Linked DNA regions of Homo sapiens. The main gene of each other region encodes a partner of the protein of the gene in region 4 in a complex. Each region holds a gene or a part of one and is shown on either strand. Other genes may lie near its edges.

What was found.
Region 1: the proteins of SMAD7 (region 4) and SMURF1 are in contact, whole or in part, in an NMR structure (PDB 2LTX), measured with the Homo sapiens proteins. Residues at the interface, in NP_005895.1 of Homo sapiens: Glu203, Glu205, Ser206, Pro207, Pro208, Pro209, Pro210, Tyr211, Ser212, Arg213, Tyr214, Pro215, Asp217; in NP_065162.1 of Homo sapiens: Glu313, Arg315, Ser316, Thr317, Arg321, Tyr323, Val325, Asp326, His327, Arg330, Thr331, Thr332, Phe334, Thr335.
Region 2: the proteins of SMAD7 (region 4) and SMURF2 are in contact, whole or in part, in an NMR structure (PDB 2LTZ), measured with the Homo sapiens proteins. Residues at the interface, in NP_005895.1 of Homo sapiens: Glu203, Leu204, Glu205, Ser206, Pro207, Pro208, Pro209, Tyr211, Ser212, Arg213, Tyr214, Pro215, Met216, Asp217; in NP_073576.1 of Homo sapiens: Glu304, Arg306, Asn307, Thr308, Ala309, Thr310, Arg312, Tyr314, Val316, Asp317, His318, Arg321, Thr322, Thr323, Gln324, Phe325, Thr326.
Region 3: the proteins of SMAD7 (region 4) and YAP1 are in contact, whole or in part, in an NMR structure (PDB 2LTV), measured with the Homo sapiens proteins. Residues at the interface, in NP_005895.1 of Homo sapiens: Ser206, Pro207, Pro208, Pro209, Pro210, Tyr211, Tyr214, Pro215, Met216, Asp217; in NP_001123617.1 of Homo sapiens: Thr241, Gln242, Asp243, Tyr247, Ile249, Asn250, His251, Lys254, Thr255, Thr256, Ser257, Trp258.

The regions. Positions count from the first base shown.
Region 1 is NC_000007.14:99,141,096-99,147,919, forward strand, and holds the start of SMURF1 (E3 ubiquitin-protein ligase SMURF1), read right to left. Parts: upstream 3,014-6,824; 5' UTR 2,686-3,013; coding exon 2,631-2,685; intron 1-2,630. UniProt on the Homo sapiens protein: E3 ubiquitin-protein ligase that acts as a negative regulator of BMP signaling pathway. Mediates ubiquitination and degradation of SMAD1 and SMAD5, 2 receptor-regulated SMADs specific for the BMP pathway.
Region 2 is NC_000017.11:64,554,298-64,561,318, forward strand, and holds part of SMURF2 (E3 ubiquitin-protein ligase SMURF2), read right to left. Parts: intron 3,426-7,021; coding exon 3,311-3,425; intron 1,702-3,310; coding exon 1,523-1,701; intron 697-1,522; coding exon 559-696; intron 1-558. UniProt on the Homo sapiens protein: E3 ubiquitin-protein ligase which accepts ubiquitin from an E2 ubiquitin-conjugating enzyme in the form of a thioester and then directly transfers the ubiquitin to targeted substrates.
Region 3 is NC_000011.10:102,105,446-102,113,461, reverse strand, and holds the start of YAP1 (transcriptional coactivator YAP1), read right to left. Parts: upstream 3,016-8,016; 5' UTR 2,614-3,015; coding exon 2,293-2,613; intron 1,914-2,292; exon of another isoform or gene 1,691-1,913; intron 1,015-1,690; exon of another isoform or gene 717-1,014; intron 1-716. UniProt on the Homo sapiens protein: Transcriptional regulator with dual roles as a coactivator and corepressor. Critical downstream regulatory target in the Hippo signaling pathway, crucial for organ size control and tumor suppression by restricting proliferation and promoting apoptosis.
Region 4 is NC_000018.10:48,940,963-48,947,983, reverse strand, and holds part of SMAD7 (mothers against decapentaplegic homolog 7), read left to right. Parts: intron 1-5,176; exon of another isoform or gene 5,177-5,325; coding exon of another isoform or gene 5,326-5,428; coding exon 5,429-5,503; intron 5,504-7,021. UniProt on the Homo sapiens protein: Antagonist of signaling by TGF-beta (transforming growth factor) type 1 receptor superfamily members; has been shown to inhibit TGF-beta (Transforming growth factor) and activin signaling by associating with their receptors thus preventing SMAD2 access.

The DNA.
Region 1 (6,824 bases), on a different chromosome or scaffold from region 4:
GAAAGGGAAAGGGAAAAGGTGTTTCAGAAACAACACTCATCACCTGATCCTTCCCTATCAAATGTCATCCAAAAATTCCTCAAAGCATTCTTGCTTCGATAATCTAAATTCCTAAATCCAAAAATAATTTGGTAGGAGGAGAAACCAAGTCCTCCCTTTCAAGGCTCAGGCTTGGCAAATAGGATTGATTAATATACATACACCAGACATAAACATTTCAATTAAAACCTATTCCTTCTAAAACATTCATCATATTTCTAACACAAAATCAGTTGCTTTCGCTTTTAACAAGATAACTGAAACCAATCTGATGTCAATTACAGACTGAGCTGTAAATCAGAACCAAGTTAAAAGCTTTACAAGTATTACAATCTCAAAAATGTTACTTTTATCTTACCACATAAATAAAAATGTATCTACATTGTATCTACAAAGTGAGAAGCGTTTCCTATCAGCCCTGGCATAAAGAAATGTATTTCCCCAGAAGCAAAGATCCCAGAGGAAACTACCTCCTACGTTACAAAACCAGGGTCTGGGTTTGGGTCCAAATCATTATTTGATATCTTTATACAAAAAAACAAAACCTTCTCTTAAGACAAAAGTTGGGCCATGCAACAACTATGGGCTCTCAAAGTAAATTTTAGTTTAAAAAAATTACCTATTGTTTGCATGGATTTTACCGATGACTTTATGGCTGCGCATCTGCCATAAAGTGTTCAAAACGCTCATTCTCTCTTTGAAAGGACCTGACCAAACCAGGACTTTGGAGTTCTCACCCGACTGAGCCACTGAACAGAAAAATCCAGGGGAAAATCCCTGACGGGGATTAGAATGAACTTTTTAGTTTCCTTCCAGAGCTGGAAATATTCGAGTTTGGAAAGTCCCGGAGCAGAGCCGCATTTGCAACACGGCCATCCTGCTTTAGGGATGAATTGAAACTGGAAAGAGAGTAGTACCAATGAGAGTGAGAAAGGGAAGACGAGGATGCAGCCTGGTCCAGAACCTCTGGAGCCCGGGGGGAAACAGGTTGGCATCACATCCGCGCCACCAAGTCGCAGGCCCGCGGCAGAGCGTTGCGCTCACCCTTGAAGGTGGCACTACAGAGCCACCCAGGAAACACGGACTTTTCATTGAAGACAAAATGAATCAAGGAGCCTGCGTGTGGGCAGCTTCCAAAGCCTCCAGTGAGTGTGGGAGTAGGGATCAGAGCCTCACGGCGCTCTGGGTTGCTGAGTGTGGGGGTGATGGTGAAACAAAATGCAGAAAAGGTAAAAATTGAAGAAGCAGAGTTAAAAGTAGCTAGCGGTCTGGCCTAAGAGACAGGAAGTGGCCCAGACTGAGACTGAAGAGGGCTGGACCAGGGGGAAGTGAAGAGAGCAGGACTGGGAGCAGCTACAAGATAGGATTGAGGAATTTCAGGCTGAAGGAAAGAAAGGGTGGAGGCCTCGCCAGACAGCAGCGAGGGGGCGGGGCTAGGCAGGAATGAGGGCGGGGCTTGAAAGTGAGGGGCGGGGCTAGGGGAAGAAGGGAGGAGGACGGTGTGGGGGGGTGAGGGAGAAACGAAAGAGGATGGGGGAGTGAGAAGAGGGTGGGTGGGGGCAGGAGGGGAGAAGCAAGGGGGCAAGTGGAAGGGGAGGTAGCAAAATAGCTTGGAAGTGGTGGGAAAGACCAGGAGGATGAGGGGAGGGAGCAGGTGGGAGGGAAAACAGGAAAGCAAGAGAGATGATGGGAAAGTGGTGAGAAGTGAGGGATGGGACCAGGGGAACAGAGGCAAGGCCAGGAGGGAAAAGCGAGGGGGCAGGTGGGCGGAGAGGATGGGAAGCGAGGAGAAGGAGGGAGGGGGTAAAAACGGCGGAGGAGAAAAAAAGGAGAGAAGCAAGGGGGCGGGACCAGGAAGAAGTGAGGGCCGATGCTAGGAAAGAAGTGAGGAGGCGGGACCAGGAAGAAGTGAGGGCCCAGGCTAGGAAAGAAGTGAGGAGGCGGGACCAGAGAGAAGCGAGGGAGCTGGACGCAGGGAGAAGCGAGGGGGCGGGGACAGAAAGTTAGGAGGCGGGAGCAGAGAGGAGCGAGGGGGTGGGGCCAGAGAGATGGGCGGGGTCAGGTTTGGGGAGGAAAGGTGGGGAAGAGAAAGGACCACAGGGATGGAGGTGAAAGGCAAGGGGGCGGGGCCTGGGGGGAGAAGCGAGGGGTCAGGTGCTAGGGAGAGGAAGGGAAGCGAGAGGCAAGGGGCCGAGCCGGGGAGAGGTGAGGGGAAAGGGCCTGGAAGGAGATGCAAGGGGCGGGGCCAGGAAAAGAGAAGCGAGGGGCGGGGCCAGGGAAGGAGATGCAAGGGGCGTGGCCATGAATGGAAATGAGAGGGGCGGGGCCAGGACGGAGATGCGAGGGGGCAGGTGCGGGGGAACGGGAGGGAACGCGAGACCGAGGGGGCGCGAGCGGCCAGGGGGCGGGGCCGGGCAACGGCGAGGGGGCGGGGCCAGGAGGGAGAAGCGAGGGGCGCACGCCGAAGGGGGTGACGAGGTCCTGGGACAACGGCCGGCGTGGGGGAGGGCCGCTTCCAAGGGCGCCCTGCGGGGAATTCCGGGGCGGGCGAGGGGGCGCCGGGGCGCGGGTGGGCCTCCCGCCGGCCGTACCTGTCAGACGGATCTTGATGCTGGAGCCGTTCCTGCGTGTCCCGGGGTTCGACATCTCCCGCCAACGATCGGGCAGCCGCGGATCCAGCGCCACCGCCCCCCAGCCCGGCCCGGCCCGGCCCCGCCGCCGCCGCCTCAAGGTTACGGCTCCGGGCTGGGCGCCGGGGTCCGAGCCGGGACACAAACTCCGCGGCCCAGGCGTCCGGGCGGCAGGCGGATGGTCGAGCCGGGAGATCGGCGCTTGCTGCGGCGCTCTGACCCTCGCTGCTTCCAGCCGAGCCCAGTCCCGAGCCGCCGCCGCCTCCGCCGCCGCCTCCGCCGCCTCCACCACCTCAGAGCCGGACGCCCGCCGCCCTCGCCGCTTCCGCCGCTGCCGCCGCCTCTCCGAGCCGCGCGCGCGCCCGCCGCCGTGCCGGCCCGGCCCTGCGCGCCCCCGCGCCTGCGTGCGTGCGCGCCCCCGCCACGTACGCTGGGGCGGGGCGGGGTGCGCTGCTACGTCGCCCGCACGCCTGCCTCGGGCGCGCGGGGCCCGGATCCCGCGGGTTGGGGTCTTCACCCTTCCTGTGGTCGGTGGGTGGGAGGGTCTGGCCCCGAGCCCGGGAAGGGAGAGCAGAGCTGGCCCCGGGACCCAGCGCGCGGTCGCCCTCTGTCTTGACCCCTGTCTCTGCGAGGCTCTGGGCTCCTGAGTGACTGAAGAGTGGTTTGCATGAAACCGTGGGCTGTGTCCACACCAAGCTCCTTGCACACAGGCGTGCAATACCAGTTTTTTTCAGTTAAGAGCTTTCGATCGTGCAAGTTCAAGGGAGGGACTTCTCAAAGAGACAAAGCCCTTAGGTGTGTTCTGTGCAACGGGTGTGCTCCACTGACCCATAACAAAGTTGCCAGAATCGCAGAAGTGCCATATACGGACAAGGAAAACGAGATGAGAGGGAGGGATAAAGTTGAGAGGCGGATGTTTGTTATTATCCATTCTGCATACAATTTTACCAAACAAGAAAGTGGCATTGTGGTTTGTGTTCCCATGTCTTCTGCTAAATTTCCCCTTCTCCCGGGGTTGCAGGTTAGAACCAAAAGCTCATGGCTGGGTACGGTGGCTGTAGCCTGTAATCCCAGCACTTTGGGAGGCCGAGGCGGGCGGATCACTTGAGCCCAGGACTTTGAGGCCAGCCTGGGCAACATAGGGAGACTCCATCTCTACAAAAAATACAAAAATTAGCTGGGCATGGTGGTGCGCGCCTGTAGTCCCAGGTACTGGGAGGCTGAGGTGGGAGGATCACTTGAGCCCCAGAGTTCATGGCTGCAGTGAGCTATGATCAGGCCACTGCACTACAGCCTGGGTGACAGAGCTAGACACTGTCTCAAAACACACACACACACACACACACACACACACAGAAAAAGCTCATTATGCGCTTTCTCCAGCAAACAAACTCCTCTCTGTTAGCATGTTATAGAAATAAACTGGTATTATTAGAAAGAGGGAAAACTAGGTTTATCAAACTTGTTTTTTACCCACTACCTTGTTGTTGTTGTTGTTGTTTTTTGAGACAGGGTCTCACTCTGTCACCCAGGCTGGAGTGCAGTGGCACGGTCTTGGCTCACTGCAACCTCCACCTCCCAGGTTCAAGTGATTCTCGTGTCTCAGCCTCCTGTATAGCTGGGATTACAGGCGTTAGCCACCACACCCAGCTAATTTTTGTATTTTTGGTAGAGATGGGGTTTCGCTGTTTTGGCCAGGCTGGTCTCAAACTTCTGAGCTCAGGTGATCTGCCCGCTTCAGCCTCCCAAAGTGCTGGGATTTCAGGCCTAAGCCACCGCTCCCAGACCCCACTACCCATTTTCATGTACAAGTTCTTTTTTATTTTTATTTGATTCTTCATCAATCAACTTGAACAAATTCTTTTAATACTGTGTGTGTGTGTGTGTGTGTGTGTGTCCCAAGGAAAGTAGGCTCTGGGCCATTGCTACCATCCCCTGCAGCCTTGTGCCTGTCCTAAGGTCACAGTCTTCGGAACAGAGCCTTCTACCTAGAGCGCCTAGACATACCTGCCTGCCTGCCCGCCTGCCTGCCTGCCTGCCTGCCTCGGATGACCCTAGTGAAAGCAGAGTCTCTCCTGGGCAGGATTCAAGGCATCACATCTGTCAAATAAAAGGATGGTCCTAGGTCATTTCTATGGCACCTTGCGGCTCTTTCAGTTATCCTCAAGAAAGACCCAAGAATATAAGCAATGTTTAAGCAATAGCAGTAGAGCCACAATCCAGCTGTTTCCATTTGTAGATGATTGTCACAGAGAGTGAATGCCTGGGTCTGAATTAATCCATCCAGTCTCTAATGCTCCCAAGTAATCCCCATTCTTCTGCCAATCCCGTTAGTATTTCCCCCCTATTCAAAGAGTCTCCTCTCTAAACAAAACCAGACATCACTCTCTGCTTACCTGGGTGCAGGCTCCTGTTCTTATCCCCAGGTGTTCCTGACCTGGAAACCTTTCATTGCTTAATTTTGTTGTTTTTCTCCCCGCCCCGACGGCTGGTTCTTCGTTGGCTTGACTGTTTCCTTAATCTTTGAGTCAGGAGGTTGCTTCTGGAGGTTTCTGAAAGGCATTTTGTTCATTCATTAACAAGTACAGATGCTCCTTGATGTACAATGGGGTTACATTCTGATAAACCCATAATATGTTGAAAATATGTCAAAAATGCATTTGCGGAGGCCGGGCATGGTGGTTCATGCCTGTAATCCCAGCACTTTAGGAGGCTGAGGTGGGGGGATTACCTGCGAGCAGGAGTTCGAGACCAGCCTGGCTAACATGGTGAAACCCTGTCAACTAAAAATACAAAAGTTAACTGGGTGTGGTGGTGTGCACCTGTAGTCCCAGCTACTCGGGAGGCTGAGGCACAAAAATCACTTAAACTCGGGAGGCAGAGGTTGCAGTGAGGCGAGATTGTGCCACTGCACTTCAGCCTGGGCAATAGAGCGAGACTGTGTCTTAAAAAAAAAAAAAAAAAAAAAAAAAAAAAAAAAAAAACAACGGAAAATGCATTTACTACACCTAAGCTACCAGCCATTATAGCTTAGCCCAGCCTACCTTAAATGTGCACAGAACACTTTCATTACCATACGGTGGGGCAAAATCATCTAACACAAAGCCTATTTTACGATAAAGTTATTATAAAGAATTTTGAATCAAAATTCGAAATTTGAAGTGTGGTTTCTACTGAATGTGTGTCGCTTTCCTACCATAACATCAAAAAATCGTAAGTCAAACCGTCATAAACTGGGACCATTTGAAATTGCTAGATATACCCAATAGTATCTTTCACCACAGCTGCACAAAGGGGACCTTCCTACCTGGAAGCTCATGTTTTACTCATTCGGCAAACATTGGCCACCTGCTATGTGGCTAGGAACAAGGAATACAAAATAAATCTATTACAGCTTCAGCATTCCAGAGGGTCAGTTAACTGGATGAAACAGACATGAGCAACTGACAATGATACAGTGATGGGGATGTGTATAGCAGGCTAGAACATAGATGACAGAACAATTCTACATAAGAAGAGAAATGGAGACATCTCGAGTCACAGATGATCTTAATCTAGAGCTTAAAGCCAACGTTCAAGTTTGCTGGGCAAAGTGGTGAGGAAGGGCATTATAGATAGAAGGAACAGCTGCACAAAGGCATGAACGTGAATGGCATTTTCCAGCACCATTTTCAATAAAAATGTACTTATGGAGCTGCTTGTATACTCTATCCATACAACTTACTCCATTAAAAGTTGATAAAAGTCCGGGCACAGTGGCTCACGCCTGTAATCCCAGCATTTTGGGAGACCAAGGCGGGTGGATCACCTGAGGTCAGGAGTTTGAGACCATCCTGGCCAACATGGTGAAACCCCATCTCTACTAAAAATACAAAAATAACCTGGGTGTAGTGGCAGGCGCCTGTAATCCCAGCTACTCGGGAGGCTGAGGCAGGAGAATCTCTTGAACCCGGGAGGCGGAGGTTGCAGTGAGCTGAGATTGCACTGCTGCCCTCCAGCCTGGGCGATAAGAGCAAGACTCTATCTCAAAAAAAAAAATTTTTTTTTTTGATAAAAGCCTGGGCAACATAACGAGACCCCCATCTCTACAAAAAATTTAAAAATTATCTGGGTGAGGTGGTGCATGTCTGTAGTCCCAGCTACTCAGGAGGCCAA
Region 2 (7,021 bases), on a different chromosome or scaffold from region 4:
CATGTTGGCCAGGACCAGGCTTAGGCCTTAAAAAGATCTAGCAGCTTCTGCTTTTGAGCTTTAGAAAGCTGGCCACCCCATAAGAAGTCTGGCTATCTTGTTGGGAGAGAGAGTGGCTATGGGGGGAGGGAGTGGCTATGGGGAGAGGGAGTGGTCATGGAGAGAGGGAATGGCCTTTGATATCACATAGGGAGAACCAAGGAACTCAGCCAACAATGAGAACAAGGCCCCAGACAGTGACCCCAGTCAACAGCCATGCCAGCTAGCCCTCAGCCATTTGAGTTATCCTAGTTATGAGTGAAGAGGCCATCTTGGTGTTGCAGGCCTAGCTGACATCTTGTGGAACACCAGTGTTGTCATCCATGTTGTTCTTTTGCCCAATTTCCTGACCCATGGAATTGTGAGAAATAATAAAATGTCTGTTCTAAATAAGCCACTAAATTCTCCTGAAGCGGATTTTGTAACACTAAGTAGTACTATCTAAATATTTAAGTTTGTTCATACTAACATTCTAGAACATTTTAAAAAATTCAGCCTTGAGAACACAGGAGTGTTTACCTGACATATTCTTTTTTATTTTCTTCATTAACAGGGATACTTTTGCCATTTGGTTTAAGTTCATGCTGAATAATTTCACCATATGCATTATGTTCAACACAGAAGGTATGGTCCAAAACACCTGTAATATCATTCTCACTGGATAGGAAAGAGGAAAAGATATGTAACTGGGAAACCTAAAATACAGACCCTATAGATGTATTAATTGGTGAGATAAAACTAAGATCATTTTATAATATAACAAATGTGAGGTCAGATTCTGCTTCCATACCACCTAGTTCTTTCTGGACAGAAAAGTCAAAGAGCTTTAACCTTCATAAACACAGAAAACATTTAACTTCCTGAGTAATGAGAAAGAGCCTTGGTCAAAGCTGGGCCTTGCTAGAACCACCAATATAGGACAATTTCAGTTACATTTGGCATTCTGAAGAGCCCTACTCGGTACTGTACTCCAAGGGGCCAAGTGCCTGTGTATCCCTAGTGAGAAAGCTACTGTATACTTTATAAAAAATAAACATTGCCAGTGTATCTTCACAAAATAATGACCTCTTGCAAAACAGAATCAGTTCTTAGCTTAAATTCAACAATTAGTTCTTATTCTAAAAGTACGGTTCCAACAATCGCCACTTCATTAAAAGCAACAGCAGCCAAGAATTTGCTATTCTAACACACGCAGGTTTGGAACAGAATTTGTATCACATTGAGGAAACAATTATATAAAGTACTTTTAAAAATAGAAATATACTAGTTGTTTTTTCCTTTTTAAAGTAGTAACACTTGCTAAGTTTAAGGAATTTGAAATGTATAAAGAAGCTACAGGAAAGGGGGAAATCATATGCGATCCTATCACTCAAATAACCACTCAATATTTTCTGTGTAATTTTTTTAAGTACATCAGTTTTGAAACATATTTTTTTTTAAAGCTCAGAGTTTATAATGAAGAGATAGAAGACTCAATACATACAGTATCCACACTAAACTGTTGTGAAGATCCGGATCTACTAACTCCATGTCATCCAAGGTAATTGACTTCCCAAGCAATTGCTTATAAAAAGGCAATGTGAAACCACCATCAATATAATGTCCATGAAACACAGCCATTCCCATTATTCGTCCAACAAAGTGGAAATAGGATAAATGTTCCTGAAATTGAAAACAGTATATATACTCGTTAGGCACTACCCAGGAAAATTTTAATAAAAATGAAATATTTCAGCAACATTAATCTTTTTGAGAATAAGCATAAAATTTTTACTCTTCAATAGAGTCAGGAGGGAGTATTTCTCTAGGGCATGCTCCAGAGTCTCTAGATCACCAGAGAACAGCATATTACACAGGGTAATATGCCCTTCTCGCAGGGGCCAGTCATTTTGTAAATTTTATCTTTTAGAAATTAAGTCCAAACTATGGTCCCGGAGCTTCATTCAACTACTTGCAGATCCTTTTCTCTTCCTTCTCTCACCTCCTGCTGAGCCCTTTGTCATGAAAAAAAATCTTTCAATCCTAAACCTCCCTACTTCCTTGACCTAACCAGAAATTAAACATCAAAACACCATAGATTTAAGAGCACAGACTTGGTGTCAGACTTGAATTAGAATCACGATTCTGCCAGTCAATGGCATATGGACAAATTAACCCCCGTAAGACTAACTGTCCACATCTGGAAATATGAGGATAATAACAGTATCTAAAAAGCATCTCTATGAGGAGTAAAATGAGGTGATGTTTGAAACCCATGGAACTGGACCTGGCATGTTATAAGCAGTCAATGAGTCTGGGCTATTGTTACTACAGGGGCAGTAGTGGGCCCTCCAAAAAGAACCTTCACCTCAAAATCCTCCCTAAATAACTTCTTGAAACAAATCTAACATTTCTACCCTTTTATATATATTTGGTCTTTCGTCACAGATTGTTTTGTTAGATGTTTGTATTTTTAAATTCTTTTACCTCTCTATTTACTAAGTAATCTTTTAAGCTCGTCTTTAAACCTTTTATCTTGTTTTTGTTTCTTTTTTAAAAGTAACACACGCGCACGCACACAAACATATATATTTACCAAAGTTGCATTATACTATTTGATAACCTTCGTTTCACTTAACACATCATAAACACCATCTTTCCATATCATTAACTATTATCCCACATTATCATTTTAGTGGCTGTATAGTATGCCCTTATATGGAAAGACAATATAAAAACAATACATTAGTAATAACTGCTAACTTCTGTTGAGTGCTTAGTAATGTAGTTGATAGAGTTGTAGAGTGAATAACATACAGCACTGTGCTAAGTGCTTAATGTGCAGGGTCCCATTTCATTCTCATAACCCCTCTTTGAGGTACAAATGTATTTATTAGCAATGACAAAACTGAAGCTTAAGTCCATGAACTTGCCCTGAAAGGTCACAAAGCTAGTAAGTGATGAGACCACGACACGTCTTTCTAATTCCAGAACCTATGCCTTTAATCATTTGCATTATTCTGCTTCATGTCATAATTTAATCAGTCCCCGCTCCTGAAGACAACTATGTTGTTTTCAGTTGAGTGCTACTATAAACAATAAACATCCCTGTTTCCAAATTGGTGCATATATCCATAATCATCTGCTTGGGAAAATTTTATAGAAGGGGAATTGCTGAGTCAAAGGGCACAACTAAGACAAGGACAAATAATTTCTATATAATAAACTACATTAACATGTAAACATGAAAAGCATTATTGGTCACAATTCACATCATAACTTCAAATCATACCGGATTAACTGCAGAATCAGGATTGATCTGCAATGTATAAATATCATCTCTTGAATACTGGAAGAGGCCATAGTATGGATTCAACATTTCATGTGACAAGAGATACAACCATTCCCTAGAAAACAAGATATGACCAAGGAATTTTTTTGTTAATGTATACATTTTTATTAAGATATGTCATTAACTAATCATTTTAGCAAATAATTATTTAAATTAATAAAAGGCAAAAAAGCACTAACTACAGTTATATAAGATCACATTGGAAAAATCTACCGTACCCAAATAGCATATAAAAACTCTATTATATTGAAGTAACATCTCACGCAAAATTTAGGCAATTTTATTATATTTTAGCATCAAAGAGTATAAAAGTATTATCCAACAGTTCAGCTACTCACGAGATGATACGGTCCAGTGGTCTGTTACTTTTAATTGCCAAATAAATTTGTAATCCATAATAAACATAAAACAAAAGGAAGAATATGGTTTTATTTCAAAATGTCCATGTGAGGCTGGGGACGGTGGCTCACACCTGTAATCCCAGCACTTTGGGGGGCCAAGACAGGTGGTTCGCTTGTGCTCAGGAGTTTGTGACCAGCCTGGGCAACAAGGCGAAATCCCATCTCTACAAAAAATACAAAAATTAGCCAGGTTGATGGCAAGTGCCTATAGTCCCAGCTACTTGGGAGGCAGAGGTGGGAGGATTGCTTGAGCCCTGGAGGTTGAGGCTGCAGTGAGCTGAGATTGCACCACTGCACCCCAGGCTGGGTGACAGAGACCCTGTCTCAAAGAAAAAAAAAAAAAGTCCACGTCATCTCTATTATCCTGGTCTACTCCTATCACGACCAGTTTATACAGACATATAATATAGTATTGATTTACTCTTCATTTTGGACAAGGCTATATTTTGTTGTAGTATTAAGGACATTTCATTATTCATTTCATTATCATTCACTGTATAAACCCTGAAACATACCATGATAAAAATATAAGTGGGCAAGGATTGCAAGGCATTTGGTGTAGGTATGGACTCAAGGGCAAACGTGCATTCTTTGGGTATGTTCCATACCACTTCTTGACTTCAATGTAAATCAATGTTTTTAAAACCTGGAATAAAAAGTACTTCCACCTTGAATTTATTAAAACCTTCAAATTTTTCAAAGTATAAAAGATAATTTGTTACTCACTTTGGAAATTCACTAGTCTAGGACTTAAGAGATGTAGTTCTAGTCTTAATTCTTGTCATTCCTTGGCTAGGGAAGGTTATTTAAATGATATATTTTGATATTATGGATTAAACAGATTGAATAATATTTTTGAGCAAATGCAGAATAGTATTAAAACTAGTTAAAGGAAACTGTTTCAAAATTCTATGTGATGGAGTCTAAATTAAATTACTACCATTATGTAACATTTGAAAAACTACTCTAGAGATTAAAAAAAGAAGTAACGTCTCCACATAAGCAGCCTTCCCAACATAACACTCATCTGATGTGTCTTGTGTTTTTGGTGTGTGTATGTGTTTTTTAAAAAGAAAATCCAAATTTTTGTTTTGTTTTACCAAGTATTTAGAACACAAATAAGAGCAGAACTCAACTACTTTGAGATTCTACTATGGAATAAAGTTCAGAAAAAGCAGATCACTGTCACATTCCATTTATTCTGCTCAAACCCTGACAGTAGTAAGGTTAAAAAACAAAAAACTGGGCTGGGTTCGGTGGCTCATGACTGTAATCCCAGCACTTTGGGAGGCTAAGGCGGGCAGATCACAAGGTCAGGAGATTGAGACCAGCATGGCCAACATGGTGAAACCCCGTCTCTATTAAAAATACAAAAATTAGCTAGGCGTGGTTGTATGCGCCTGTAGTCCAGCTACCCGGGAGACTGAGGCTGGAGAATCGCTTGAACCCAGGAGGCAGAGGTTGCAGGGAGCCGAGATTGCGCCACTGCACTCCAGCCTGGCGACAGAGTGAGATTCCATCTCAAAAACAACAACAACAAAAAAAACTGACTACGAGCCAGGCATGGTGGCTCGCGCCTGTAATTCCAGCACTTAGGGAGGCGGAGGCTGGAGGATCACTTGAGGCCAGGAGTTTGAGACCAGCCTGGGCAACACAAGATCCTGTTTCTACCAAAAAAAAAAAAATTTTTTTTTTTTTGAGACGGAGTCACACTCTGTCACCAGGCTGGAGTGCAGTAGCACGATCTCGGCTCAGTGCAACCTTTGCCTCCTGGGTTCAAGTGATTCCCCTGCCTCAGCCTCCCGAATAGCTGGGACTACAGGTGTGCGCCACCATACCCAGCTAATCTTTTTTTTTTAGTTTTTAGTAGAGACGGGGTTTCATCATGTTGGCCAGGATGGTCTCAATCTCTTGACCTCGTGATCTGCCCACCTCAGTCTCCCAAAGTGCTGGGATTACAGGTGTGAGCCACTGCACCTGGCCAAATTTTTTTTTTTTTAATTAGGCATGGAAGCATGTGCCTATAGTCCTAGCTCTTTAGGAGGCTGAGGCAGGAGGATCACTTGTACCTAGGAGTTCGAAGCTGCAGTGAGCCATGATCACACCACTGCACTCCATGGAGCCTGGGTGACAGAGTGAGACCCCGTCTCTAAAAAACTAAATAAATAAAATAAACTACTTATTTGATCTATACATATAATTATAGTACTTAGATGCCACCAGTAGTTGATGATGAAGTGTTCCCAATAAACATTCACTCTAGTTATGAGTAAGTAATACAAATTCCACAGAAACTGTCAAGTCCTAAGTATGATGTACAAGGGATTATTTTTAAAAATCCACACTAAAGAAACTATCCATCCGTAGGTTTAAAAGGTGACAGAATGAAAATAAGGCTACAAATACACACATGTAATGCTAAATAACAATTAATGGGAATTATTGAAAACATAATTTTGGTTGGATTTAAGATTAGGGAAAGCAGAATTACCACAATGATCCTTGGAACATTTCAATACAGAGCTACAGTGTTTCTCCATTTATATAAAACGAATTTTCACACATAGAAAAGAATTCTTGTAGTAAATATAATATCAGAAATAAATCACTGGCTGGGTGTGGTGGCTCACACCTGTAATCCCAGCACTTCGGAAGGCTGGGGCAGGCAGATTGTTTGAGCTCAGAAGTTCGAGAATAGCCTGGGCAACATGGCAAAACCCCATCTCTACAAAAAAAAAAAAACAAAAACTAGCCGGGTGTGGTGGCTTGTACCTGTAGTCCCAGCTACTCAGGAGGCTGAGGTGGGAGGCTCTCTTGAGCCCAGGATGGGGAGGTTGCAGTGAGCTGAGATCACGCCACTACACTCCAGCCTGGGTGACAGAGGGAGACCCTGTCTCCAAAAAAAAAAAAAAAAAAAAAAAGAAAGAAAATTAATTTGACTTGACCTGTGAGTTACAAATGTAGCAGAAGCATTCTACCTTCTGTACTGAAACATTCTGAGGACCATCATGATATGTACATGTGTATACACACATGCATGCATACACATTCATTTAACAAGGAAAAAAGGCATAACAAATGGAAGCAAAGAGAACCAGTATTCAGTTCAGGTTATATATCATTTAAATCTCAAAACTGTTCCTGACAATGTAAAGCAGAGGCAATAATGTACTTAAAGAGAGAGATGGAGAAAACACAGGGCCTGCAGTCTCATGGGACTCAGATGGTCTACTGGGGAGTTCCAGAATAC
Region 3 (8,016 bases), on a different chromosome or scaffold from region 4:
ACAACTCTATACAAGCAGAAAAAATTCTGCATTCAGACCCCAAAGATCTGAGTTCCAGTCTAAGTTGGCTAGTGTGACACTGAACAAGTATCTTAACTTCCATATGCCTGTTTTCTCCTTTATAAAATAGTTTTCATGATAGAAAAATGGATGTATATGAAAGAACTTACAGTCACCAGTTTGTGTTGTGAACAATAGTATTTACAACCTAGATTTGTACTATTCATAATCTTGCATAGTTTTTAAAATATTTTTAATTAGCATTAGAGTTTGATTATCAAAAAGTTAGAATTTCCTAGATTCACAAAGGTAAGGAAACTGGAAGGACTCAGTAGAGTCATTAATGCCTTAAAGTGATACACCTTTTTGAGTTTCCCATCAGAATAAGTATGATTTAGGAAATCATTAGGAGAAATAAAAGTCGAATTTACAGATGCAAAACACTTAGTTAAAAACTTATTTAAAACAAACAAAACTATAATAGTTTATGAATTTTAGAACTGCTGGATATAAATTCTTGTAAAAATTATTTACTAGAAGAAAAAGTACACTTCCCAGTTGTAATTCTTTGTGGCTGATGCCACAAAATGGGGGATCCAATCTATGTGTATTATACTTTGAAAACATACCGTGCAGTCTGTAGGGTGCATGCCAACATACATTTACCCACAATGAGTCCATAAACCCACTTCGAGGGGTAAGAGAAAAAAGCATACCTAAGACAAATTGAAGTGTTTAGGCAAGCAGCTAAATTGTTTTTCCTTCTTTCCTCCTCCTTAACCCGGGTTTTTGTCATCAGGTTAAGTGATTTTTTCTGAGTTCCAAAACCCTTTGGTCTCCGACAGGAGACTATACAACAGGCCTGCAAATAGGAGAGGGAATGGGAGTGGGGGCGGTAACTCTTCTTTCCACTCAAGTTACATCCCGAGTGGGCTAACTACATTGCAGTATTTGGAAAACCTATTAACTTTTGGGCAAAGTTCCTATGCTGAAGTTTAGCCTGAAGCAAGTTCTCAAAAAAAAAAAAAAAAAAAAAGAAGAAGAAATAAAAAAGAAAGAAAAAGAGAGAACCCTACACAAAACAAATCCACTGGGACCTATTGGAATGTTAACACTCATTATAAACAGTTTCACTTCTATGCTGAATCAAGTTGGCACAATAATCGAACATTGTGTATGTGGAATAGCAGCCATGTTCATATCCGCAATAAGAATTAAAAAGCAATGGCGATCCTAGAATTAGTCATCGCTTCCCAAACATTAACTTTTAATCACAGTTGAACTAGGCAGGACTTGGCCTATGAGTCAACCTGCAGTGTATTATCAAAGGCTTGTGTTAAAACCTCGGTACTGTAAAGCGCAACTCAGTTCCTGCGCAACGTACAGATGTGGCTAATTCAAAAGCGTTTCAGCCGACTGTAAATAATAGTCTACAACTGGGAAACCAACACGCGACCTACTAAGTTTGATAAGAGCAAGCCGGCCCAAGTTCCAACACACAAGGGAAGAGCAGGGGTGAAAGAACTCCATAAACAACTTCCAGGAAAGTCTGGGCAGGGGAAGCCCGAAACCTGTATTCCGAAATCGCCTGAGCCGCGAGGAAAATAAATGCTTACGGGAGGGGGAGGGGAAACGGGAGGGGGGAAGGAAAGAAAGAGCAAAAAACTAAATGGACCGGTTCTACCCCCACCTCTAATCAACACTGGAAAACAAGAGAACAATTATTTGACTCCCCCAGGAGACTGAAGTGGACCGAGAGGCCGCAAAGGAAAGGGGCCCAGGGCTCAACTTCACAAACTCGGCCGCCGCTGGCAACACACCCACACACAAATGCCAGAGGCCCCCCTCCCCCTTTCCCAGCCCGGCCCGGCGGGAGCGAAGGTGCGGAGCGCGCGGAGGCGCGCGCATTGTGCAAGCCCACCGCGGCCCAGGCCCGACTTTTCCCCACCCCCTTCCTTCCTCCCCACCCCTCCTCCACTCCCGCCAACCTCTCGGGAACCCCGGGAAGAAAGAAAGGAAGAAGGAGGGAAAGCACGCCCCCCGGGGCTGCAACCGCAGAGAGAAACTCAGAAGGGAAAAACAAATCTCAGCCCCGGACTCTGGGAGGAGTGGGGAGCTGGTCACCGCGGCGGAGTGGACGACTCCAGTTCCACTTCGCCTCGGGACCCCCACCCCAGCTAGAGTTCCCGCAACCCCCCTCCCCTGACCAGAGCTGGCGGCCGCGGCTCCCGAGCGCCCCCCCGGTCTGAGGCCCGCCCGACGGGGAAACGGGGAGAGGGGCAACGAGGTTACCTGTCGGGAGTGGGATTTGGGCTCCGGCGGCTTGAAGAAGGAGTCGGGCAGCTTCCGGAGCCTCATGGGCACGGTCTGGGGCACGTTGGCCGTCTTGGGGTTCATGACGGCGTTGAAGAGCGCCTCCAGGTCGGTCTCCGAGTCCCCGCGGACGTGCACGATCTGATGCCCGGCGGGGGGTGCCTGCGGCGCCGCCTGGGTCGCCGCGGGTGCCGGTTGCCCGGGTCCGGACGGCGGGCCCTGCCCCTGCGGGGGCTGCGAAGGCGGCTGCCCTTGGCCCTGGGGGGCCGGTTGAGGCGGCGGCTGCTGCCCGGGATCCATGGCTTCTGCCTCCCCCGACGCGCACCCCCTGACCCAGGCGAGCGAGGGCTACGCCCGGACGCCCCGGCTCCACGGGCCGAGGTGGAGAAGCGGCGACGGCTGCGGGCCGGGCGGCGCTGTCCTCGCTCTCAGGGCCGGGGGGCTGCGCCGCGGCCCCGCATCCCCCGCCCCGGCGCCTCCGCCCCCGCCCTGCGCCCCGGCTCCACTGGTCTGGCGGCTGCGCCTCGGGAGGGGCTGCGAGGCACTCGGACCTGCGGCGCCTGAGAACTTTTTCCCTCCAACTCCCTTGACGGAGGCCGGACAGCTCGTTGCCTTTCCCCGCCTCCCCTTTCTCTTTATTTCCTTTTCTTGTTCCTTCCTTCCTCCCTTTCTTTTCCCTGGCGGCGGCTGCGCCCGACTGAGACAGAAACTCGCCTCAAACGCCAAAACTAAAGTTAGGAGAAGCGCCCGCCCGCGCCGCCGCGGCCCCGCCTCCTCTCGGCTCTTCCTTCCTCTGCGCGCCCGCCCGCACCGCGGCCCGGCCGGCAGCGCAGGGAAACTTTTCGCTGCAAGTTGCTACATTCCTGCACACTCCCGGCCCGCGGCGCCTCTCCCGGCCGCACGTGACCCGCTCGCCCTGGCCCGGTCCGCCCTTCGCCCGCGCTCAGCCGGGCAGGGGCCCGAAGCGTGCCCCGTATTCTGCCCCGCGAACCGCAAACGATGGGTCCAATCCGGGTCCGAACTGTGGTGTCTGCGGAGAACGCGGGCGCCCTTGGCTGCAGGAAGTTCTTCCGCTCCGCTCGGCCCCTTTTCCCCGCCCGTGCTCGGGAAAGGCGCTTCCAGTTCGCCTGGACCTGCGAAAGGGCCAAGGCCGAAAGAAGTGGAGAGAGGATGTGCGAACCCACCTCCTCCTCCTCGCGTTACCCCGGCTTGACCGAGCGGAGCGCCTGTGCGAGCTTAAAGCCGCGAGGATAGATTGGAGTTAAAATAGATACCGTGAGCCGGCATTGATGTTAATAAAGATCCATTGTTTTCAGCATTAACTTTATTTTGTAATTGTTTCACTTATCTGTTAGTCTGCAAAAACTCACTTGAGAGGGGTAAACGGTTACTGTAATTGAAGCTTTGAGACCAGGTCTGTAACTCAGTGTAACTTATTAAAAGAAACAAAAACACTACATTTTCCAAATAGTGAAATCACATCAACTTTTTTAGTACTCGAATTTGCAATAGTCACTGGAAGCCGCAACCCAAAAAATTAGTGCGTCTTCAGGTACAAGCATTCATGCCTCTGTACCTGTCTTTCATCCTCAAGGAGCTGGGTCCCTACCCCTGCTATCCCTGTGCCTGGCCCAACGGTGGACTCCGTTAATGTGGACTGAATAAGAAATGAATGGGCAAGGAGGTCATCCCAGGCACCTGATGTACAAGGAGCCCTTCTGGAAGCCACTCAAAAACAATAGAAATGTTTTTTAAGTCATACACTCTGGGTTTTTTTTTTTTAAAGCATCCTTGTTGAGATATAATTTATATACCATACAGTTTTTGCAATAGTTGTACATATTAGTATATTTAAGCAATTCACTGTTTTTTTAAATATATTCATAGGATTGTGCAACATCAGTCTAATTTTAAATGCACAAGCCCATTCTAAGGAAATCTGGCTTTCTTGTTTTAATGATTTTGTCTACAATGCTAGTGAAACAAAGGTATAAGTAGGATTAAGCAAGGAAAAAGTCCGTGAGCAAAAAGGTAATTTCTTCCTTCAGCCAGAACATGCCCAGGAGAATTCTGAAGGATCTGTATCACTTGGTGTGGTAGGGCTCGGCCAAAGGAGCAGGCCTCAGACACTCAAAATTCTAACAGAAGATTCCAATCAACTACTCTGAACCCCCAGTTTCCTGTCTGAAAAAAAGGATCAGAGTAAATGACACCCATGACTAGTTCTTGGATTTGTTCCCACTCCTAAATGTCAAGTGCATTTAACGACAGACTTGCAGGTTCTGGAGTTACAGAGTTTTGAGTTCAGGTCCCAGTTCTGCCATTTACTAGCTGTGAGGTTTTGGACAAGTTATTTATTTCCTGTTCTTTAATATTAGCATCAGGGGTAATAACACCTACCTCATAGTTGTTGGGGCATTAAATGAGTCAATGGATATAAAGTACTTAGCCCAGTTTGGGACGTGCAGTGAGTTCCACATCAATGTCAGTTGTCATTGTTGTCCCATGTTCACAGATTATTTCACAGGTAGTAACATAGCCTCTCCTTGCAGCAGCCCTCTCTTTCTAAGCACAGCCTCAGGGACCCTGTTGGTAGTCCCTTCCTCTCTTATCCAATAATCAGTCCACACAAACAAAACCTTTGGGCAGAAACTATGCATTAAAAACTTTACCTGAAAGAAAACTTTAGGAACCAAAGTGGGCCGGGTGCGGTGGTTCATGCCTGTAGTCCCAGCACTTTGGGAGGCCAAGGCAGGGGAATCACCTGAGGTCAGAAGTTCGAGACCAGTCTGGCCAAAATGGTGATACCCTGTCTCTACAAAAAAAAAAATACATAAAAATTAGCCAGGTGTGGTGGCATGTTCCTGTAGTCCCAGCTACTCAGGTGGCTGAGGCATGAGAATCACTTGAACCCAGGAGGTGGAGGTTGCAGTGAGCTGAGATCACACCACTGCACTCCAGCCTGGGCAACACAGCGAGACTCTGTCTCAAAAAAAGAACCAAAGTGATTGAAAACCTGGGATTGGAATAGAAGCTGTCCCTTTACTAGAGCATTTACTGCTATGAACACTAACTAAAGGGCTTCAGATACAGCAGAGGCTGCTTTGTTCAATATTGTTTCACCTGCCATTAAACTGAGGACAAAATTACTTTGATAAGTGGAGTGAAAGGGTCTTTGGAGTGACTATGTTCTGTAAGCACTTCTGTATCATCAACCAAGATTTTGTAATTTACTATTCCTCGTTTATACAATTTCAACCACGGTGTAGTAGGGGATAAAGATAACATATTCAGTCCTTTGTCTACTCCCTTCCTCTTCTGCCCATTTTGTGGACCAATTATCTGTTGGCAGCATCTTAAAATAGGGAGTCACCTTCTTCGTATAAAGATGCACCCTTATCCTGGATCATTTTCAATGTCCAGGTAGATCACTATCTCAAAACATGCGTATCCCAATTAGTTGACCTGTCAACTAAAATGGACCCTCATCTCTACTTCACTTTAGCCACCTGCCCCTTCGTCTGTACTCTGCATCATCCAGAAATACTCCAGTAGTGAAGTCAGACTATGGTATACCATATTCTTAATAATCATCTGGTTCTCTTATTTCATTACTCACATCTCATTTATCCTTAACCTCTCCCTTTTCTGCAACCTATCACTCCCTTCCCTTTTCATTTCTGTTATGGTTTGGGTGTTTCTGTCTCTCCAAAATTCATGTTGAAACGTCTCCAGTGCATCAGTATTAAAGAGGTGGGGCCTTTAAGGAGGTGATTAGGTCACGAAGGTTCCTCCCTCCTAAATGGGATTAAGAACTTTATACAAGAGGCTTCACACAGCATTCAGCTGTTTTGCCCTTTCATCTGTCTGCTGTGTGAGGACACAGCCTTCATCCCTTTAAGAGGATGCAGCAACAAGGCACCATCTTGGAAGTAGAAAGCAGCTGTCATGAGACAGCAAACCTGTTGCTGCCTTGATCTTGGACTTCCCAACCTCCGGAACTGTGAGAAATAAAATTCTAGTATTTATAAATTATCCAGTATGTGGTATTTTTTATAGCAGCACAAACAGACTAAGATAACATCCTTGCCATTCAGTTTGGAAATCGTAATTCATTGTTTAAACTTCCCATGCCAGGCATGATGGCTTATGCCTATAATCCCAGCACTTTGGGAGGATGAGGTGGGTGGATCATCTGAGGTCAGGAGTTCAAGACCAACGTGGCAAAACCCTGTCTCTACTAAAAATACAAAAATTAGCCGGGCATGGTGGCACATGCCTGTAATCCCAGCTATTTGGTAGGCTGAGGCAGGAGAATCACTTGTATCCAGGAGGCGGAGGTCACAGTGAGCCGAGATTGTGCCATTGCACTCCAGCCTGGGCGAAAGAGCGAAACTCCATCTCAAAAAACAATAATAATAATAAATAAATTTCTCACAATTATCTAAATCTTCAATCCCGTTCTCTCATGGATTTTAATGAACCGAATCTGTTATACTGTTTTAATCCAGTTATCTGTGTTTTATTCCAACGCCTAAGCTTATAGGGCCTAGCCCCACATTCATGAGAAGCTTCAATCAAAGCTTTTAACATTTTGTCCAAATAAGGTTACACTACCTTCCCAAATATATGCCTACACTATACAAGGAGGCATTCTTTGTAGAACTTTAAACTTTGTCTCATCACCAAATGACACTATCTATAATGCATTATGAATTAATAGTTTAAGTAGGCCAAGTGTGGTGGTGCACACCTGTGGTCCCACCACTTTGGGTTGCCAAGGGGGGTGGATCACCTGAAGTCAGGAGTTTGCGACCAGCCTGACTAATGTGGTAAAACCCTATCTCTACTAAATACAAAAAAATTAGACGGGCGTGGTGGCACATGCCTGTAATCCAAGCTACTTGGGAGGCTGAGACAGGAGAATCACTTGTACCTGGGAGGCAGAGGTTGCAGTGAGCCAAGATGGAGCCATTGCACTCCAGCCTGGGCAACAAGAGCAAAACTCCATCTCAAAAAAAAAAAAAAAAAAAAAAGGCCGGGTACTGTGGCTCACACCTGTAATCCCAGCACTTTGGGAGGCTGAGGTGGGTGGATCACCTAAGGTCAGGAGTTTGACACCAGCCTGGCCAACATGGTGAAACCCTGTCTCTATTAAAAATACAAAAATCAGCAGGGTGTGGTGGCGCACACCTGTAATCCCAGCTACTCTGGAGGCTGAGGCAGGAGAATCACTTGAACACGGGAGGCAGAAGTTGCAGTGAGCCGAGATGGCGCCACTGAACTCCAGCCTGGCTGACAGAGCGAGACTCCATCTCAAAAAAAAAATAGTTTAAGTAAATTCTATAATTATCTGGTGAATATCACAATTATTTTTCTTTGTAATTATCCCATGTTAAAAGTATTAACTTGTTAAGTGTAAACATTTGAAACATACCAATGTTTTAGAACCTTCTCTTGGCATTCTGGCATGCTAAGTACACTGGGAACTTGAAAGAAGTGGTCAGCTCTCTTCCAGCCTCCGAGAAGCCTGGCTAACACCTTGGTTTCTGGGGCCAACGGAAAGGAATCTCACATGTGAATGCATTAGTGTCCTTCCACATTTATAGTCTCTAACTGAACCATGTTTCCCTGCATCTGTAATGAGCCTTTTCTTGCATGATATAGCTATTCTAAACTTAGTCACGTAACTCATCACATTTA
Region 4 (7,021 bases):
GTTTAAAAAGGTGCAAAGAAGACTTTGGTCTGGAGTAGACACTAGAACTTTTCAGAAGTATAGGCAACAGCCAGTAAAAGGGGGGGGGGGGTAGGTTCCTCCTGCTCCAGTCACCTGCAAGTCAGTCCTCTCCCGGGGTTTTCTCAGTATTCGCCATAGGGACTATCAAAGTTTGAAGCATAGCTCTGCCTGTCTGCTGCTTTGTCACTGGCTGGCATGAAGCCATGGCAGAAGCCCATTTGAGACTGGCACCAGCCCTGTTGTGGTTGTCTGCATTCAACTTCTGGCCGGCAGCAGCACAGGGGTCCATCCTCTGGACATCACAGTGCTGGGGACAGGGTCAGCAAAATGAACTTGGGGGTGACAACAAGGACAAACCCAAATTCCTGGAGCTCCCTCTTACAGTAGGAGATAGATCTGTTTGCTAAAAGTACAGGTTGTATGTAACCTTGGTTTTTGTGCCTGTATACTGGTGCCTGAAAAAAACATTAATACTTGGGACATTTTTATTTTGCCAAGGTTCTGGGAGAAGGAAAAGTGAAGGGTTGGGCACCATTTAGCTCCTGGAATTCTGCAAGTCCTTCCGCCTCCTGCGTTTTGGCTGTTGGGCCTTTCCCCCCACTAATTAAAAGTTTTGCTGGGGCGTTGTCATAAATTAAATACTTTAATGAACGTGTAACCGAAGCCCATACTCTGCAGCCAGTCCTCCTGGGACTCTACCAGCTCCCTCAAGTTGGGAAGGCGTTCCTGCTTGCCTGGTGCCGGTCTAATAAGTGGCCCGCAAAGCATGTGATATTTTGCTTTCGATTTACAAAACACCAGATAAATGGTTATTAATAAGGAGATACCCAGCTCTCTGTATTTGTAACAAACGTTAACTGGAATTACCAAGCTCTGTTTTCCTAAAGACTGTAACTTGACTGGGTTTTGGCTTAAAGAATCAAGAATTCTTTTATGAAGTTCATTTTCCAAGGGGCCACCTCTGACCTGTTTTTTTTGTCCTTCCATATTCTTCAAATTTGGAGGTTTTCCTTAAAAGAGAGAGAACAGTGACCTTAGCCCCAGGGATAAAGACCAGCAGGGGTAAATGTTCCCAGAAACCTCCAAAAACCATAGAAAAGAAAGGCCATGTTCCCTTGGGTTTCCTGCAGAGACACTGGGATAAATCTGTTCTCAGGATTTAAGCAGTCATTCTGCCAGGCCAGGGCCTCATTTTCGGTGAGTGGAGTGATATATTTATTCATTAGCAAGTGTTGACATTAGGTAGCAAAATGTGTGTAAACAGAGAAGCCACAAAGACAGGAATGTGCCATTTCCAAGGGGGAGAAAAGTTCTCCAGATCAGCCAATAGGAAGTGATTAACCTGCCAATCGGAAACTAAGACAGCTGGTTACTCACCCAAAACGTTTTGTTGAAAATAGAACAAAAAAAGAAATGAGAAAAGGCGCTGCTGTGTAAGAATTTAGCATCAGTAATAGACAAAGCCCCCACGAAGGGAATTGTCCTGCCACATTGGAGGACAGCCAGGTCTGGAGCTGGAGCACACCCCCCCCGCCCCCCTCACAGGTCTGGGGCTGGTTTTGCCAGCTGCTGTGGCCGGGGGCATTGAGGTCAGACCACAGATGGGCGCTGACCCAGGTCTTCATCCCCATTTTGCGTATGGGAGAATGTTTGGCCCGGGAATCTACATGGACCATTTACATTCTTCAGTTTCTATGTCCCTTAGGTTGAATTTTTGGTCTTGGGTTACTAGATGAAACAGGCACAAAGTTTTACAGTGGACAACTGTTAAAATCTTAACCAGTTGCACAACTAAAGGAATACATCCTGTGAAGTCTCCATCTTAGGAAAAGGTGGTGGGAATGGGGCTGGGGCCTGGTACCCTGCAGCCTTTGGAGACACAGAGGGCTCAAAGCTAGGAACTCCATTTTGCTATAATTTAAGCCACTCCACTCAGCATCTGGGAGGCCTGGACTTTAGACACCTAGGTACTGTGTGGTCCAACCAGGAGAGCCTTCTTTGAAAGAGTGTTCACATGACTGAACCTAGGGGAGGCCAGTTGTGACTTGTGGCTGTCAGAAGTCAGAAAGACACCCCCACCTCCACATCCCACAAGAAGTCAGAATTTGCTGTTTAAAGCTGGATCTCGGGGATAGCTGTGTGGGCTCTGCTTCCCGTGTTTCATTGTATCTGATGGTCTGAAAGGTTTGAGGAATGGCTGGCCTTGGGGGGTTGCTGGGTGAGCTCTTGAGGGACCCAGGTGGCCAGTATCCATGGGCAGATCCAGCCTGCAAATCCAGATCGGAAGTCTGGTGTCTTGACCTGAGATCTGGCACTGCGTTTCTCTCTTAACCGAGGTCCCTCTTAACTTTTCTAGGCCTCTTTTAAAATCAGCATGATGAAAGAGATTAGGTCATTCATTCATTTATTCATTCATTGGTTCAGTCATTCATTTTACAGGCATGATGATGTGCCTACCTAGAAATTTGAGGATTCCGATGCAGTGCTGTGTTCTTTTTTTTTCCGAGACAGTCTCATTCTGTGCCCAGGCTGGAGTGCAGTGGCCCGATCTCGGCTCACTGCAAGCTCCACCTCCTGGGTTCACACCATTGTCCTGCCTCAGCCTCCCGAGCAGCTGGGACTACAGGTGCCCGTCACCATGCCCAGCTAATTTTTTGTATTTTTAGTAGAGACGGGGTTTCACCGAGTTAGCCAGGATGGTCTCGATCTCCTGACCTCGTGTGATCTGCCCACCTCTGCTTCCCAAAGTGCTGGGATTACAGGCGTGAGCCACTGCACCTGGCAGTGCTGTGTTCTTTTATAACCAGGGTTCATTTGAGTTCTGGGTTGGTTGAACTACCTGGGGCAGAGCTGGGACCCTTGGGGTACAGTGGTGAGTAGGGGCTCCTCTGTCTTTAACAGTACTTAGGAAGCTCAGAACGCAGTTGCTGAGACTATCGTGGGACTCCCAGCTCCTTTACCTTGTACTCATTCTCAATAGTTCGCTCCTTGGCTGCTCCCCAGGGTTGGGTTTTCAAAGACTCTGTTGGAGCTGCTCGGAGAAAGGAATGAGTCTTTTTCTCTCGCAGAACCTAGTGCTTACCAAGTGCTTGATAACACTTAGTGTTGCGTGAGTCAGGAGTGGCCTAGAGCTTCTGTCTGCCAGCCAGCCTGGGCTCTGGGGAACAGGCGACACAGGCCTAAGGTGAGACCCTGACTTCAGAGATCTGTCTATGCGGAGCTTTTCTGTGGGTGAGAGATGGAGGTATGGCTCCTTTAACCTTGAGGCCAGTCTGGATGGCCTGGCCACCTCCAGGAAAGAGGGTAGGGACTCCATAGCCTGCCTGGGGAGTGAGAGCCATGGGATAGGGCTGGACTCTTGGGAATAGCCCAGCTCACTGGGTGGCCCTTTGAGCTAGTCAGTGACGCCTCAGTTTACCTGGCTGCCTATGGAACAGGTATACTTTGCTTCTTCACAGGGGTGGTAGGGAGGCTTAATTAACGTTTGTAAATCCCTCTTGAGATCAAAGCCACTGCAGAAGGGCAGAGCACCATTTCACAAAAATGCTTGTGGTTGCCTGTGTGGAGCTGGCTTACCTTTGATCTGAGATGGGCTGACACCCTGAATGTGGTCTCAGCTCTGCTCTGAGATGCCCGGCTTTTCCTTTGAAACACACCTTGCCCCTGGGATTCTGCCAGCCAAAGGTGGCGGGGAGTGGCTGTGGATAAGTCATTATGTTTAATGTGGGGGTGTCTTCCATCTGGGAGGAGTGGGTGGAGGAGAGGGTTGAGAAGCCTATCTCTAGAAAATGATGAAGGCCATCAAAATGGTTTAGAAAGTGCAGGGTATACACCATTTAACAAGTAACTCCATTTCCTGCCTGCCTCTATTGTTTTCTGTTTGATTAAGTGTATCCTGTAAAACTGTATATTCCTGTTAGGAATTAGACTTTACCCTGATAAAATGAGATTACACACACAGTCTTCTTTCCCCCTACCCACCGCAGCCACCTCACCCCCACGCCTGCCTCCACTTCTGCCCCTCGCCCGCTTAGGAGAGTTCTTGAAAAGTTGTCCTTCCAGCCTTGAGAATGTGGGAGAGGGAGTGACCCTGAGTTAGAGAGAGAAACTTAGCATTAAGAGGGCAGACAGCAGAAACCCAGAGATGGTTTGGGGCTATGTGTAGGCCACTAAAGGATTCCCATGGGCTACTTGCCCGTCTGCTCTTTTTTTTTGGCTTTCCTATTTGCCAGCATGGCCAAGTGGTTCCAACTGGAAACCCACAGGGACATTGTCCTGGTGGCCTGGGGTAGGAGGCCTGGTGTCTGCACGATCCAACCTGTTGTGTTTGCTGCGGACCTGGGCAGCACCTTTCCTTAGCCGGGCTCTCCGCTAGGACTTCAGGGAGTTTGGCGCTGCCAGTGGTGCATGACAAGCTTACAGGGTCTTGTGTATTTGTGTTTCATGGGACTAATGAGTTGTGGTTCATGGACATTAGGTTTTGCTTTAATTGCTTGGAGGGCGGTTGTGGAGACTGTTTCTCAGCTGGAATTGTCATTATCCTCATTAACGGTGAGGTCACTGTGCAGAGTACCTGAGGGTGACAGAAGTTGAAGAGAAGTCTAGTTAAGGGCAGATGCAATCTAAAGGTAAAAATCAGTGAGGAAACTCCGAGTGTTGGGTGCCAAATGTTTTATAGGAACTGAGGGCAGAGAGCCTTAGCAGGTCTGGGGTTGCCTGGGAAGGTTTCCAGAGATGAGGGGTTTGGACTAGCCTGGGAGAGGTAGAACATTTCCCCTCCGGCTCGGAGCCTTGCTGAGAATGTTCTCTGTCTTGATCTGGTGGTGGTTACACAGATGTATACATGAGTAACATTCATTGCGTCTACTTGGGATTTTGTATACTTTGCTCTACTTAAGTTAGTCCTCAATTAAAAAAGGGGAAAGAAGTCCCGGCAGCCCAACATCAATCTTGAGAATGTTTTCAAGAACTGGGAAACCTGTCTTTAAAAGGATGAAGGCAGAGAGGACATGGGCTCCAAGGAGAGAGCCTTCTGCCCTTGATGAGGGATGACAGAGCAACCAGGGTTGAGAAAGTCCAACCCAAACCTCCTTTGACCTTGGGAACCACCTGGTATCCGTAATGGGGGACTGGTAATGCAAGAGAAATTCCAGCCAGTCTCATTGAGCCTGACTCGAGTAATGATTAACTGGCTGCCCGGAGCCCAGACGGGTGACAAGGTGCTGTGGTCTGTCTTACGATGGGCAGTGAAGCCTGAGCAGACCATTAATAATCAGCATCAAGGCCGCGAGTCAGCCTTTTGGAATGTGTGGTTTGTCTTTCATGCTGTTTAGAGCGTGCTTAAAGATGGATCTTGGTGTTTTTATTTGTGTATTTATTTCTTTCTCTCCCCTTTTCAAATCCACAGCAGACTGTCCAGATGCTGTGCCTTCCTCCGCTGAAACAGGGGGAACGAATTATCTGGCCCCTGGGGGGCTTTCAGGTAAGATGCTTTCTCTTATTTTCCTGGCAATTCCAACCTTTTTTGAAATTGCTAAAGACTGGAGGAATGGGGGTGGCCTTCTGCCACCCCAGCTGGTCTGGACTTCATTCTCATTTTTATATGCCTTAAGTTGGATGCATCGGTGGTGACATTGTGGTGCCCTTCAGCTCCTCATCCTGCAGTCCTTTACGCTCTGGACACTGGATCCGTTCCGTGGACGGGGAGACAAGAGCGAGCTGGGGATTGCTTTGGTGTGTGAAGTGTTGCCCGGTTATTTTTAAGCAGCTCCTGGCTTGGGGGGCTTCAGCTTGGTGACTTTGGTGTCATTAACTCATGCATTTGAGCTCTTTTTTTGCTTTTGCTCTTTGCGCATGGGGGATGTAAAGGGAATGGACCCACCTTTAGGGAACTTGTTGAAGACAGATCCCAAGCATACGATGGGATTTCAGAGTAGATCTGAGGCTTCCCTCCCAAGTTCTGATTCCCAGCCCAGCCTGCTGCAGGATTTTGCAGCACATGTCTGGGGCTGGGAGCACCAGGGTGGGAGCACTGCCAACAGTAGGAGCTGTAATTGTTCCCTAGCGGGGCAGGTTTTCCTCAGGGCTCACAGGTATGCGTGAAGGCCTGGAATGCCAGTGCTGGGGGGTCACGGGGCTGGCTGACAGGCACGGGGTAGCCAGAGCATTGTTGTTCCTGAGGATGCGAAAAGAGGGCAGTACTTAGAGAAACTCACTGGTTATGTACATGGGACGCATTTCATGTTGTTCTGAAGAAATCCTATTTCTACCTGTTTTTCCATCCCCACCATGTCATCACTAGATTTTCTAAGAACTGGCTGAAGCAAGAGGGAAAACGACCTTAAAAACAGAAATTCCAGCAGAGTTTTGGGCATTTGGCATTTCCTTGCCTGTAGGATCACGTGGTAGCAGCTCGAATAGAAGCTGTGCCCTGTTGTGGTGTATCCTCTTGTGTGAGGGGCACCCTTTTTTGTGGGGTACCTGCTCTGACTACTTGGTGGTGTGTCTTCCATGGCTGGCTCAGGCAAAGTTCATTCCCGGACGGCTCCCTCCCCGGCTCTCCTCTTCAGGAACTGAGCTTGCTGAGAACGTCTTTAGGGAGACCCTTGTTTGTTTTCATTTCAATGCAATATATACTCTGTTATCTGAGACTGAGGGTATTGTTTACTCAAAGCTTCTAATGAGAATTGAGCAGGAAAAAGAGGGACCTAGAGAAGGGAGGGGGCTTCAGGCAGTACGGTGGGAGTGGACAGAGGAGTTGAGGAGGGAGAAAAGGCAGCAGTGTGTGAACTGCATCTTTTCTGCTTTCTAAGGCTGAGAGAGTTCTTGAAAGAAAGAAGGCCAATGAGAGGAAAGGGTCTCAGCAGAATAACACGCTCAGGATGTTGTTAGATGGTTTTATTTTTTAAACCCTGAATGTGCAGGGAGGAGCCCCGGCCCCTCCAAACCACATGAAATAAGCAAGGGAAGTGGCAGCTTTTGAAAGGGTCCTTTCGGAAGG